3 linked regions of the Homo sapiens genome follow. The protein of the gene in region 1 purifies or fractionates together with the protein of each later gene. This does not show direct contact. Each region holds a gene or a part of one and is shown on either strand. Other genes may lie near its edges. The genes, in order: HAO2, EIF4G3 and ASPSCR1.

Region 1 (3,825 bases):
CCCTGGCTATAGTAGAGATACTAAAGCCAGCCTTTTCAACCAGTGGGCAACTGTGACACCAAGCCAAGTAACTCAACAGTTCTCATTAATCACAGATTGGCCTTGAGGTGCTCCAAAATCCTTATTCAAATTCCAGAAGCACATTGAGATTTATAAATGTTTGATGTACATGGTGAGCCAAGAGTAAATATTGGGTAATAACTGATTTAGTATTGCTTAGTTCTTATCCTGGGTATGCCTCAACCGTAACATATCACATTGACCAATAAATGCTTTTGCTTATCCATCTTATATACTAAACTCTGAATTTTTTAAAGTAGAAACTTTGTCTTATTTGTCTTTGTGTCCCCAGATCCTAGCACAATTACTGACAACAACATGATTCATGGTCAATGATAAGCAATTGAAGTAGAAATTCTTTTATACAAAGTTTGTTAGACAAAGGAGCTAGAAACGTTGTTGGGTTTTGTTGCTCCTGTTTCTTTTTGTTTTCTTTGTTGTTTGTTTGTTTGTTTGTTTTTGAGACAAGGTCTCACTCTGTCAGCCAGGCTAGTATGTGGTGGCGCCATCACTACTCACTGCAGTCTAGACCTCCTGAGCCCAAGCGATCCTCCCACTTCAGCCTCCCGAGTAGCTGGGACTACAGGCATGCACCACGATTTATTTTTTTAGAGGAGCAGCAGCAGGGTCTCTGTGTGTTGCCCATGCTTGTCTCAAACTACTAGGCTCAAAAGATCCTTCCGCCTCAGCCCCACAAAGTGCTGGGATTACAGGCATGAGCCACCATGCCCAGCCCTGTTCTTCCTCCTTCCAGTTTATAAATGGCAGCTCTCTAAATGTGTCTCATCTTTGGAATGCATCAAGTAGCCTTGTGAGAGCTCAGGACTAAGTTCCCTTTTTATTTCCTATAGGGAAATGCAATACCTTATTTCCAGATGACTCCTATCAGCACTTCTCTCTGCTGGAATGATCTCTCCTGGTTTCAGAGCATAACTCGATTGCCCATCATCCTGAAAGGGATTTTGACAAAAGAGGATGCAGAGTTAGCTGTGAAGCACAATGTCCAGGGTATCATTGTTTCCAACCATGGTGGGAGGCAGCTTGATGAGGTTCTTGCTTCAGTAAGTAGGATTACTTCAGAGAAGGGTGTGTTTGTGAGTGCTGTGTGTGTATGTGTGAGTGTGTCCACATCAAGGGACTCTGTGAAATCTGAGCATATTTCACTCCTCTGTACCACATGTGTTGGTATGTATCTGTGAATTTTAAGGACTGTTAATTATTATTAGTAGCCTACTGTGTGCTAAGCTGTTTTTTCAACCTTTACATATAGCATCTCTAAGTCTCATGCCAATGCTGCAAGATGGGTGTTATTATCCCTGATTTGCAAATGGGGATACTGTAGTTTAGTGATGTTAAATAACTTATCTTTAGTTCACTTAAGATAATAAATAATTAATGTTGAATTTGATTAGACAGATGTTCTAAAGTAAACACGTTTCATGGCAAAACTCTAAAAACACCCTGATGTGTCTTTTGCTAAAATCTATAAAAGTCCATAATTTTTTCCCTTAACTCATAAATTTATGTTCATTATAAATGAAGTTTGAGGGCAAGAAAGTGAGAGAAAGTAAGGCAGGGAAAGAATCTTTACATGGGAATTTGTTGTTGATTTGTTTTCATTGAGTTATATTTTTTCAAATGTTCTATTGCTGCTTGACTTGTTTTAAGAAAGAGAAATGAGGTTTTTTCCTCTTCAGTTTCATTGACACTTATATAAATAAAACATGTTCACTGCAGATAAATTAGAAAACATACATAAGCAAAAGATAAAAATTAACACTAATTTTATCACTATCACTAACGTCAACATTTTGGTCACTGTTAACATCTTCTTAATGCAAATACAATTTTTGGTGTTTAAGAAAAGTATAAATAATATTGTGTTTTTTTCTTTTACTTAGCATTATATTAAGAGCAACTTTTTGTTTCAGTATATATGCTCCTCTTATTTTTAATGGTATGTAGTATGAACAGACAACTATATAACCAACCTCCATTGTAGAACATCTGTATTGCCTCTAATCTTTCCCTATTTTAAACAACACATCAGTGACTGAATCCATAGCACAATCTCAAGTACTTCTTTAAGATAAATTCCAGGAATTAGAAATTTGCACTAGCTGGTTGGTACATTCCAAGACACGTGATGCTTGGAAGCCTAAGAGCCAGCCACTCACCTCCTCCTCTGCACCAGCTCTAACTGCTAAAGGCAGTGGAATGCAAGCCCACGTGGAGAGCAGGGGTCACCCTTCACTGTGTCTCTCTGGTAAGAGCTGAACCGAAGTGGTTGGGTCTCCTGCTTTTCATCTCACCTATTGACCTGCAAACTTAGGAGAAAGTGGTTGGGCTGAGCACACACTGAGCTCTCTCACCCAACCCCTGCCAGGATGCCTACAAGCCATCCAGTATTTAGCAAAACAGAGAAAGCAAAAGAGCATAGCATGCCCTGGGTCATCCCAACTATGCCTAAATAGGAGCAGAAGGCAATGAAGAGCCCATTACCAACAAGCAGCAAACAGTAGAATATAGGCTTTTGAAAGAAAGCTAATAAAATACATCATACAATAGGTGTCAGGCTCTCATTAATCAACTTAGCTGGTCTTGTTCTTTTGGAATAACTGAGTAATGAGTAGACAAAGAGGAAGACTAATTCTCCCATTGTGCTTCCCCACTAGAGAATGAGTATTGGCTAAGGTAGGGGCCAGGGAGAGGAGAATTTCTCCTATCTTATTGTGCTAATCAACTTGATATTCTCCCAAGCCATTTGGCTTCACATCCAAACTCAAGTTCACTTGGAGACAGCACAAATATCAGTGTGAGTCTCGTGAGGGTTTTGCTTCAGGTGAAACCTGACCCTGTGCTTGTATAACCCTGCCTCACTTGCCTCACCTTAATCCTAGCCCCAGGTCTATTTATTTATAAAAACAAACTTCCAGCTCACAGGTCAGAGTTTGCCATTTGTTTTTTTAAAACATTGTGTTCAAACATCATTTATCTGAGTTTTTTTAAAAAAATTATTTCCACAGGTTATTAAGGAACAGGTGGTGTCTGCTACATGAGTAAGTTCTTTAGTGGTGATTTGTGAGATTTTGGTGCAACCATCACCTGAGCAGTATACACTGCACCCTATTTGTAGTCTTTTATTCCCACCCCCTTCACACCCTTTCTCCCTTAGTCCCCAAAGTACATGGTGTCACTCTTATGCCTTTGCATCCTCATAGCTTAGCTCCCACTTATGAGTGAGAATATATGATGTTTGGTTTTCCATTCCTGAATTACTTCACTTAGAATAACACTCTCCAATCTCATCCAGGTTGCTGCGAATGCCATTAATTCATTCCTTCTTATGGCTGAGTAGTATTTCATCATATATATATATATATATATATATATATATACACCACAGTTTCTTTATCCACTCATTGATTGATGGGCATTTGGGTGGGTTCCACATTTTTGCAATTGTTAATTCTGCTGCTATAAACATGCGTGCAAGTATCATTTTCATATAATGACTTCTTTTCCCCTGGGTAGATACCTGGTAGTGGGATTGCTGGATCAAATGGTAGTTCTACTTTTAGTTCTATAAGGAATCTCCACACTGTTTTCCATAATAGTTGTACTAGCTCACATTCCCACCAGCAGTGTAGAAGTGTTCCCTGTTCACTGCATCCACATGAACATCTATTATTTTTTGATTATGGCCATTCTTGTAGCAGTAAGGAAGTATTGCATTGTAATTTTGATTTGCATTTCCCTAATCAT
Region 2 (3,600 bases), about 98 Mb from region 1:
AGTAAATTTCATTAAATAAAATGTGATGCTTTATCTTGAGTTTTTATACAAGTAATACTTTTTAAAATAAAAATTATCTCCCCAAATACAAAAATATATAGAATAAAAAATAACATCAGTCCCTTTATAATAATTTAATTTTTAATTGTTTGCCCTTGTACTGTTTTGCCACTGTAATATATCCTTGGAAAAAAAGTTTTTTAGGGAACGAGAAGTGGTAGAAATGAAGGTTTTCCTACCTTAAAGAAAAGCCTCACTCTTAAACCAAGAATGGTTTAGCCTCAGTTTTGGTGAGCTTTTCAGTTGTATTCTTGATATATAATTTTTTGGTGAATAGATTCCTTCTCTTACTCCAAAACAGACTTTATGTATTGGATACCAAGTAAATAGTAGGTTTAAGTAAAAAAAGAAAAGAGACAATGTTTTTGGCATACCAGAATAAGTCTAATATATTGGTCTCTGTTCTGTTACCTGTAATTTAGGGTAAGACATTGAAAGAATTGGCCCAAGGCAATATGTAGTCTCTGATCCAAGAATTATTCTTAAAACTTATTTTTTTTTCCCCAGAGGAGAAGCCAAAACCAGATCCAGTGTTAAAGTCTCCTTCCCCAGTCCTTAGGCTAGTCCTCAGTGGAGAGAAGAAAGAACAAGAAGGCCAGACATCTGAAACTACTGCAATAGTATCCATAGCAGAGCTTCCTCTGCCTCCATCACCTACCACTGTTTCTTCTGTTGCTCGAAGTACAATTGCAGCCCCCACCTCTTCTGCTCTTAGTAGCCAACCAATATTCACCACTGCTATAGATGACAGATGTGAACTCTCATCCCCAAGAGAAGACACAATTCCTATACCCAGCCTCACATCTTGCACAGAAACATCAGACCCTTTACCAACAAATGAAAATGATGATGATATATGCAAGAAACCCTGTAGTGTAGCACCTAATGATATTCCACTGGTTTCTAGTACTAACCTAATTAATGAAATAAATGGAGTTAGCGAAAAATTATCAGCCACGGAGAGCATTGTGGAAATAGTAAAACAGGAAGTATTGCCATTGACTCTTGAATTGGAGATTCTCGAAAATCCCCCAGAAGAAATGAAACTGGAGTGTATCCCAGCTCCCATCACCCCTTCCACAGTTCCTTCCTTTCCTCCAACTCCTCCAACTCCTCCAGCTTCTCCTCCTCACACTCCAGTCATTGTTCCTGCTGCTGCCACTACTGTTAGTTCTCCGAGTGCTGCCATCACAGTCCAGAGAGTCCTAGAGGAGGACGAGAGCATAAGAACTTGCCTTAGTGAAGATGCAAAAGAGATTCAGAACAAAATAGAGGTAGAAGCAGATGGGCAAACAGAAGAGATTTTGGATTCTCAAAACTTAAATTCAAGAAGGAGCCCTGTCCCAGGTAAGCCATTCTGCCATTAATCTCGTGCTTGCTGAACATGAAGAAGAGGCAGTGTTTGAGTTATTTTTTAATTGGCTACTTTCCTTGACTTCCAGAAACATCGAATGAATGCTGAAATTCCTAGTCTGGTTTCTTCAGTGGTGTGTTTGTGTTTTAGTACAACCTGCAAAAGAGTTACTCCATTGTCTAAAAATGCAAATGAGAATTTCCAAATATACAAAATGCCTCCAAGGTATATGTCACGAAACATGTTGGGTTTTGTTGTTGTTGTTGTTGCTATTGCCTCATTCATATGAATTGGTTTCTCAATGCTTAATTTTGCTGCTTTGGGGCTAGAAAACAAAAAACCAGGATGGTCTATAGTCCCTAATTCTGTCTTCCTAGAATTTTAAAACCCAGTCAATCCTAAAGGAACTCTTCTATGCATGACCAGTTTTTAAATCTTGGATGTAGGAAGATAGCAATCAGAACATCAAAGGTTTATAACTATTTTTGAAAATATAATGCTGTTGTTGATTCACTTGCAGGTAAGCTTAACGTTCTCTCACTTTGCCTTTTGAAACAGTTTTATTTTTTGTGTACATTTTTACATGGTCATTAATATCCTTGGAGTATTATATTCTTCCCAGTTCAAATTATTTCTTTTTAATGTAGCATCACCTGGGACCTTAGGAACTAACCATTGGGTTATTGTAAGTTTAATCAAAAGTTATCTGAGGCTTATCAGCTATTCTAGGATAAGTTAGCCCATAGGAATATTGAAGTTTTGGCTTTGAACAATTCAGCACAGCCTATCTTCTGCAACATTGCCCTATGCTATATAATTTCCTTTCTCTGTGCCTGTCAGATTAAGTAATGCGTATGTAAATTGGGCTTTTTGATAAATGAGTGCTCCTCCAGCAGTTGATCCTTGACATGCAGTGAATAGGTTTTGGTCACCATCATCCTCAGTATTTTTGTCTATTTTGAGGTGTATAATAAGGAAATTTGACAAACCCAAAAGCTGATCCCTACTTTTGAGATGTGGCTTTTCTACCCAGCTCAGTTCTTGAGACAATTTCCTCATCAGTGTCTGTAAGAGGTGTCTGGCCTTTTGGAACTGCAGAACATCTTGTAGAACACCATGAGCCAGCACAGGAAAGAAAACAATGCAAGGCAATTGGAACAGTGAGAAATTTTTCATAAATCTTTGTAAATTACCTGTTTCCTCAACTATCTGGCTTCCATTGACATCAGTATTCATAGTGCCATCACTGTTTTAGGAAACTTGTTCCTTGGTGGAGAGATGACCTTAGACCTTGTTTTGTCAGTTACCCTTTAGAAAAACAGCCTTGGGGCCGGGTGCAGTGGCTCATGCCTGTAATCCCTGCACTTTGGGAGGCCGAGGTAGGTGGATTGCCTGAGCTCAGGAGTTCGAGACCAGCCTTGGCAACACAGTGAAACCCCATCTCCACTGACATACAAAAAAAATAGCCAGGCATGGCAGTGTGGGCCTGTAGTCCCAGCTACTCGGGAGGCTGAGGCAGGAGAATTGCTTGAACCTGGGAGGCAGAGGTTGCAGTGAGCCAAGATCGTGCCGCCACACTCCAGCCTGGGCAACAGATCGAGACTCCATCTCAAAAAAAAAAAAAAAAAAAAAAAAACTAAACAACTTGGTGTTGGTGTGGCTGTAGGTAAATGCCCTCCGAAGAAACACGTGTTTGTTGGAGAACAGTAATTTGTTTGACACTTCAATGTTCATTTTCATTTGTAGTGATACGATAGTTACAAAAATGAGAGAAACTAATGAACAAAAATGTTTTTAAAATGTAAAAGCAAAGAAAAACAAAACAATCATAGGAAATATAAGTTGAAGATACAAACCATACCTCAGAATTGAAATAAGTGTAAAGTGAAAAGACCATGCATCAAAATCATACTTCACTCATTTCTGACATATATTCTTTTTTTAAACATCAGTTTGCCACTTAGATGACCTGATATTGCAAGACAGTGCCCAGGGATGGATGGGCAAACAGAATTTTGGTTTAAATAATGTTCATACCATGGTACATTTGTTTGAAATGCAGATGCTCTCAATATTAGTATTGTGAACACCAGCACCTTAATCAAAGAGTATAGACTCTTCAGTGGTAATCCAGAGAGCACTTAGAAAAGAAAGAACTGTTTTTTTAATGACTTGGAATAACAGAG
Region 3 (3,825 bases), on another chromosome or scaffold:
GTGGTCTTGGGCTTTCTGCCCCAGACCTTCACACCATCCTTCTCCAGTCTCTCTTGTCAACTGAAGAATGCGGTTCATATGTTTGGAAAGGAGGGCTTTATTTCTCATAACCGGTTGCAGCTTGCAGGGTGGCCATTCTAACAGGCTGGGAAGTGTAGCCTCCAGCCAGAAGCTGGAAACAGACACTTCAAGAGAGGGAAGAATAAGACAGGGATTTACACCGAATGGGGTGGCTGATACAGACGTACTTAATACGCTGTAGGAGGATCATGAGTATTCATGAAAGGAGAACTGTGCACACAGTTGAGCTTCCTGCCTCTTCACGGGTCCTATGTGCAAAAAATGGCAGTGCCAGCATGACCTGAGGGTGGAATTTTTGGCCTCTGAAGTCAGAGGTGAAGCAGGCTGGGTGAAGTGGCTCATGCCTGTAATCCTAGCACTTTGGGTGCCCGAGGCGGAGGATTGCCTGAGCCCAGGAATTCGAGATCAGCCTGGGGAACATAGTGAGACCCTGTCTCTACAAAAAAAGTAAATAAGTAAATAAATAAATAAATGGCAAATCAGAGGACATGAAGACTGTGCCACGAAAACCCTGACTGTGCCAGAACCACTCCATGGTTGGTGGTTTCTTATCAGGAAATACCTGTGGGTTGTTTTGAAGAAACCGCAAGAGAGAAGGGCCTGGCGGGAGGTTGGCTGATGTCAGATACCAGCCCAGGGGTCTTTGGAAAGGGCTGCTTTCTGTTTATCCCTTAGGGAAGAGAGCCTGCAGATGTGTCTGATCTCCCACCCAGCCATGGCCAGGAACTCAGCTTTCAAGGTTTCTGGGGTCCCCTGGGCCAAGAGGAGGCTGGTTCAGTTGGTTGGGGGGGGCTTAGGGTTTCATTTTTATTTCTTTTTTATTTTATTATTTTTTGAGGTGGAGTCTCGCTCTGTCACACAGGCTGTAGTACAGTGGCGCTATCTCGGCTCACTGCAACCTCTGTCTCCCAGGTTCAAGTGATTCTTCTGCCTCAGCCTCCCGAGTAGCTGGGATTACAGGCGTGCGCCATCATGCCCAGCTAATTTTTGTATTTTTAGTAGGGACGGGGTTTCACCATGTTGGTCATGCTGGTCTTCAAGTCCTGACCTCAGGTGATCTGCCCGCCTTGGTCTTCCAAAGTGTTGGGATTACAGGCATGAGTCACTGTGCCTGGCCATTTTTCTGAAACAGAGTCTTGCTCTGTCACCTAGGCTGGAGGGCAGTGGCATGATCTCAGCTCACCGCAACCTCTGCCTCCCGGGTTCAAGCGATTATTGTGCCTCAGCGTCTTGAGTAGCTGGAATTACAGGCACGTGCCACGCCTGGCTAATTTTTGTATTTTTAGTAGTGACGGGGTTTCACCATGTGGACCAGGCTGGTCTCAAACTCCTGACCTCAAGTGATCCGCCCGTCTTGGCCTCCCAAAGTGCTGGGATGATAGGCGTGAGCCACTGCACCTGGCCTCATTTTTCTTTCTTTTTTTTGAGACGGAGTCTCGCTCTGTCGCCCAGGCTGGAGTGCAATGGCGCGATCTTGGCACACTGCAACCTCCGCCTCCCGGGTTGAAGCACTCCTCCCACTTCAGCCTCCCGAGTAGCTGGGACTACAGGCCTGTGCCACCATGCCTGGCTAATTTTTGTATTTTTAGTAGAGACGGAGTTTCACCACATTGGCCAGACTGCTCTCAAACTCCTGACCTCAAGTGATCTGCCCGTCTGGGCCTCCCAAATTGCTGGGATTACAGGCATGAGCCACCGCGCCCAGCGCATTGTTACTTCTCAGTGTTCACCTGCCCGTGGTCTGTGTGGTGGTGTCTGGTGGGAACCAGTGAGTGCGATTTTGAGGCAGGTCCTGCAATACCATAGCCATGTTTTCAGGTGCCCTTTTCCTCTGCTAATGGTACCACTTGCTTACAAAGTGCAGCCGGTGCAGAGGAATGCAGCCCCAGGCGTGAACAGTGCCCTCCGCTCCAAGGTTCCCAGCCTGCCTGCCCTCGGGATCCCCCGATCTGCTATCCTGTCTTGACGTAGACATTTCATGTGGCAATTTCCAGACTCACTTTTCTGGCCAGTGTTGATATAGCAAAGTTTGTTCTCTCTTAATTCTTCCAGATGCCCCTGGGCTGTCTGAACTCTCTTCACTAGTTGTCTCCGACAGCAGCTTGCATTTCCAAAGTGAGGCCAACCACTTTGAGTATATTCAGATTTTTCTTTTCTTTTCTTTCTTTTTCTTTCTTGTTTTCTCTTTCTTTCTTTCTTTCTTCTTCTCTTTTTCTTTTTCTTCCTTTCTCTTTTCTTTTCTTTTCTTTCCTTTCCTTTCCTTTTTTCTTTCACAGAGTTTTGCTCTTGTTGCCCAGGCAGGAGTGCAGTGGCATGATCTTGCCTCACTGCAGCCTCTGCCTCCCGGGTTCAAGCGATTCTCCTGCCTCAGCCTCCCGAGTAGCTGGGACTACAGGCCTGAGCCACCATGCCCAGCTTATTTTTTTGTATTTTTAGTAGAGATGGGATATTTTTGTATTTTCAGTAGAGACGGGGTTTCACCATGTTGGTCAGGCTTGTCTCAAACTCCTGAACCTCAGGTGATCCGCCTGCCTCGGCCTCCGAAAGTGCTGGGATTACAGGCGTGAGCCACTGCGCCCGGGCAGTCAGGTTTTCTGTGGTGGCTCCAGCCGTGACGGCCGGGGTCTGTGACACTCCAGCTTCCGCGAGTGCAGCAGTGTTCACGCCCCAGTCGTTCTCTCTGTGTTTTCCGAGCGTCTGCACTGGGGCTGTCAGCACCCCAGACTCTGAAGGAGCAGCCCCCTCGGCGTGCACCGAGGCCCACATCTCCCTTTTTCCTGCTCCCTTCTGCTTGCAGGAGGCCCCATATGATCGGGGACCCGCCTTGTGCCTCTGCAGGTCATGACGTCCCGCTGTTGGGGAGCTGCCACAGGACGTGGATGGCGGGGCGTGGATGGCGGGGCGTGGATGGTGGGACGGGGATGGCGGGGCGTGGATGGCAGGGCGTGTCAGGCTCTGCAGGGCAGCAAGTGTGCTCTGGTCTGTCTTGCAGGTTTCAGAGGAGCGTGCTCGACCTTTCTCTCCAGTGGAGATTTGCCAACCTGCCCAACAATGCCAAGCTGGAGATGGTGCCCGCTTCCCGGAGCCGTGAGGGGCCTGAGAACATGGTGGGTCGTGCTCTGGGGGAGGCTGACTGTGTGGGGCACAGGATCGTTCAGCTGGCCAGGGACGGGGGACGGGACAGTGGGGGGTGCTGGGGAAGGAGGGACATGAGTCTTAGCACCAGTTCTGCCTTCCCTGGGTTGGGCCCAAACAGCTTCCTGTTTTTTGATAACTGGCAACTGAAAATGAGCATCTCATGTTTTTTTTTTTTTGAGCTGGAGTCTCGCTCTGTCGCCCAGGCTGGAGCTCAGTGGCGCAGTCTCGGCTCACTTCAAGCTCCGCCTCCCGGGTTCACACCATTCTGCCTCAGCCTCCCGAGTAGCTAGGACTACAGGTGCCCGCCACCACACCCGGCTAATTTTTGTATTTTAGTAGAGGCAGGGTTTCACCATGTTGGCCTGCTGGTCTGGAACTGCTGACCTCATGATCTACCCGCCTCGGCCTCCCAAAGTCCTCCCAAAGGATTGCAGGCGTGAGCCTCTGCGCCCCGCCCACGTCATTCTTCATGTGGAAGTTTTTCTTTCTTTCTGGGGTCAGTTGTGCCTTCCCTGGCTCAGGGTGTCAGCAGCATTCACCCACCAGCCTGACCACCTGCTCATAGAATTGCCCAGAATGTTAGAGCCGAAAGCGCTGCATGGATGC

What was found.
Region 2: the proteins of HAO2 (region 1) and EIF4G3 purify together in Homo sapiens (affinity purification with mass spectrometry; 2 studies listed by BioGRID and IntAct, with this or other methods). This does not show direct contact.
Region 3: the proteins of HAO2 (region 1) and ASPSCR1 purify together in Homo sapiens (affinity purification with mass spectrometry; 2 studies listed by BioGRID and IntAct, with this or other methods). This does not show direct contact.

The regions. Positions count from the first base shown.
Region 1 is NC_000001.11:119,385,711-119,389,535, forward strand, and holds part of HAO2 (2-Hydroxyacid oxidase 2), read left to right. Parts: exon of another isoform or gene 1-286; intron 287-911; coding exon 912-1,121; intron 1,122-3,825. UniProt on the Homo sapiens protein: Oxidase that catalyzes the oxidation of medium and long chain hydroxyacids such as 2-hydroxyhexadecanoate and 2-hydroxyoctanoate, to the correspondong 2-oxoacids.
Region 2 is NC_000001.11:20,939,298-20,942,897, reverse strand, and holds part of EIF4G3 (eukaryotic translation initiation factor 4 gamma 3), read left to right. Parts: intron 1-567; coding exon 568-1,407; intron 1,408-1,502; coding exon of another isoform or gene 1,503-1,522; exon of another isoform or gene 1,523-1,654; intron 1,655-3,600. UniProt on the Homo sapiens protein: Component of the protein complex eIF4F, which is involved in the recognition of the mRNA cap, ATP-dependent unwinding of 5'-terminal secondary structure and recruitment of mRNA to the ribosome. Functional homolog of EIF4G1.
Region 3 is NC_000017.11:81,980,481-81,984,305, forward strand, and holds part of ASPSCR1 (tether containing UBX domain for GLUT4), read left to right. Parts: intron 1-3,073; coding exon 3,074-3,188; intron 3,189-3,825. UniProt on the Homo sapiens protein: Tethering protein that sequesters GLUT4-containing vesicles in the cytoplasm in the absence of insulin. Modulates the amount of GLUT4 that is available at the cell surface. Enhances VCP methylation catalyzed by VCPKMT.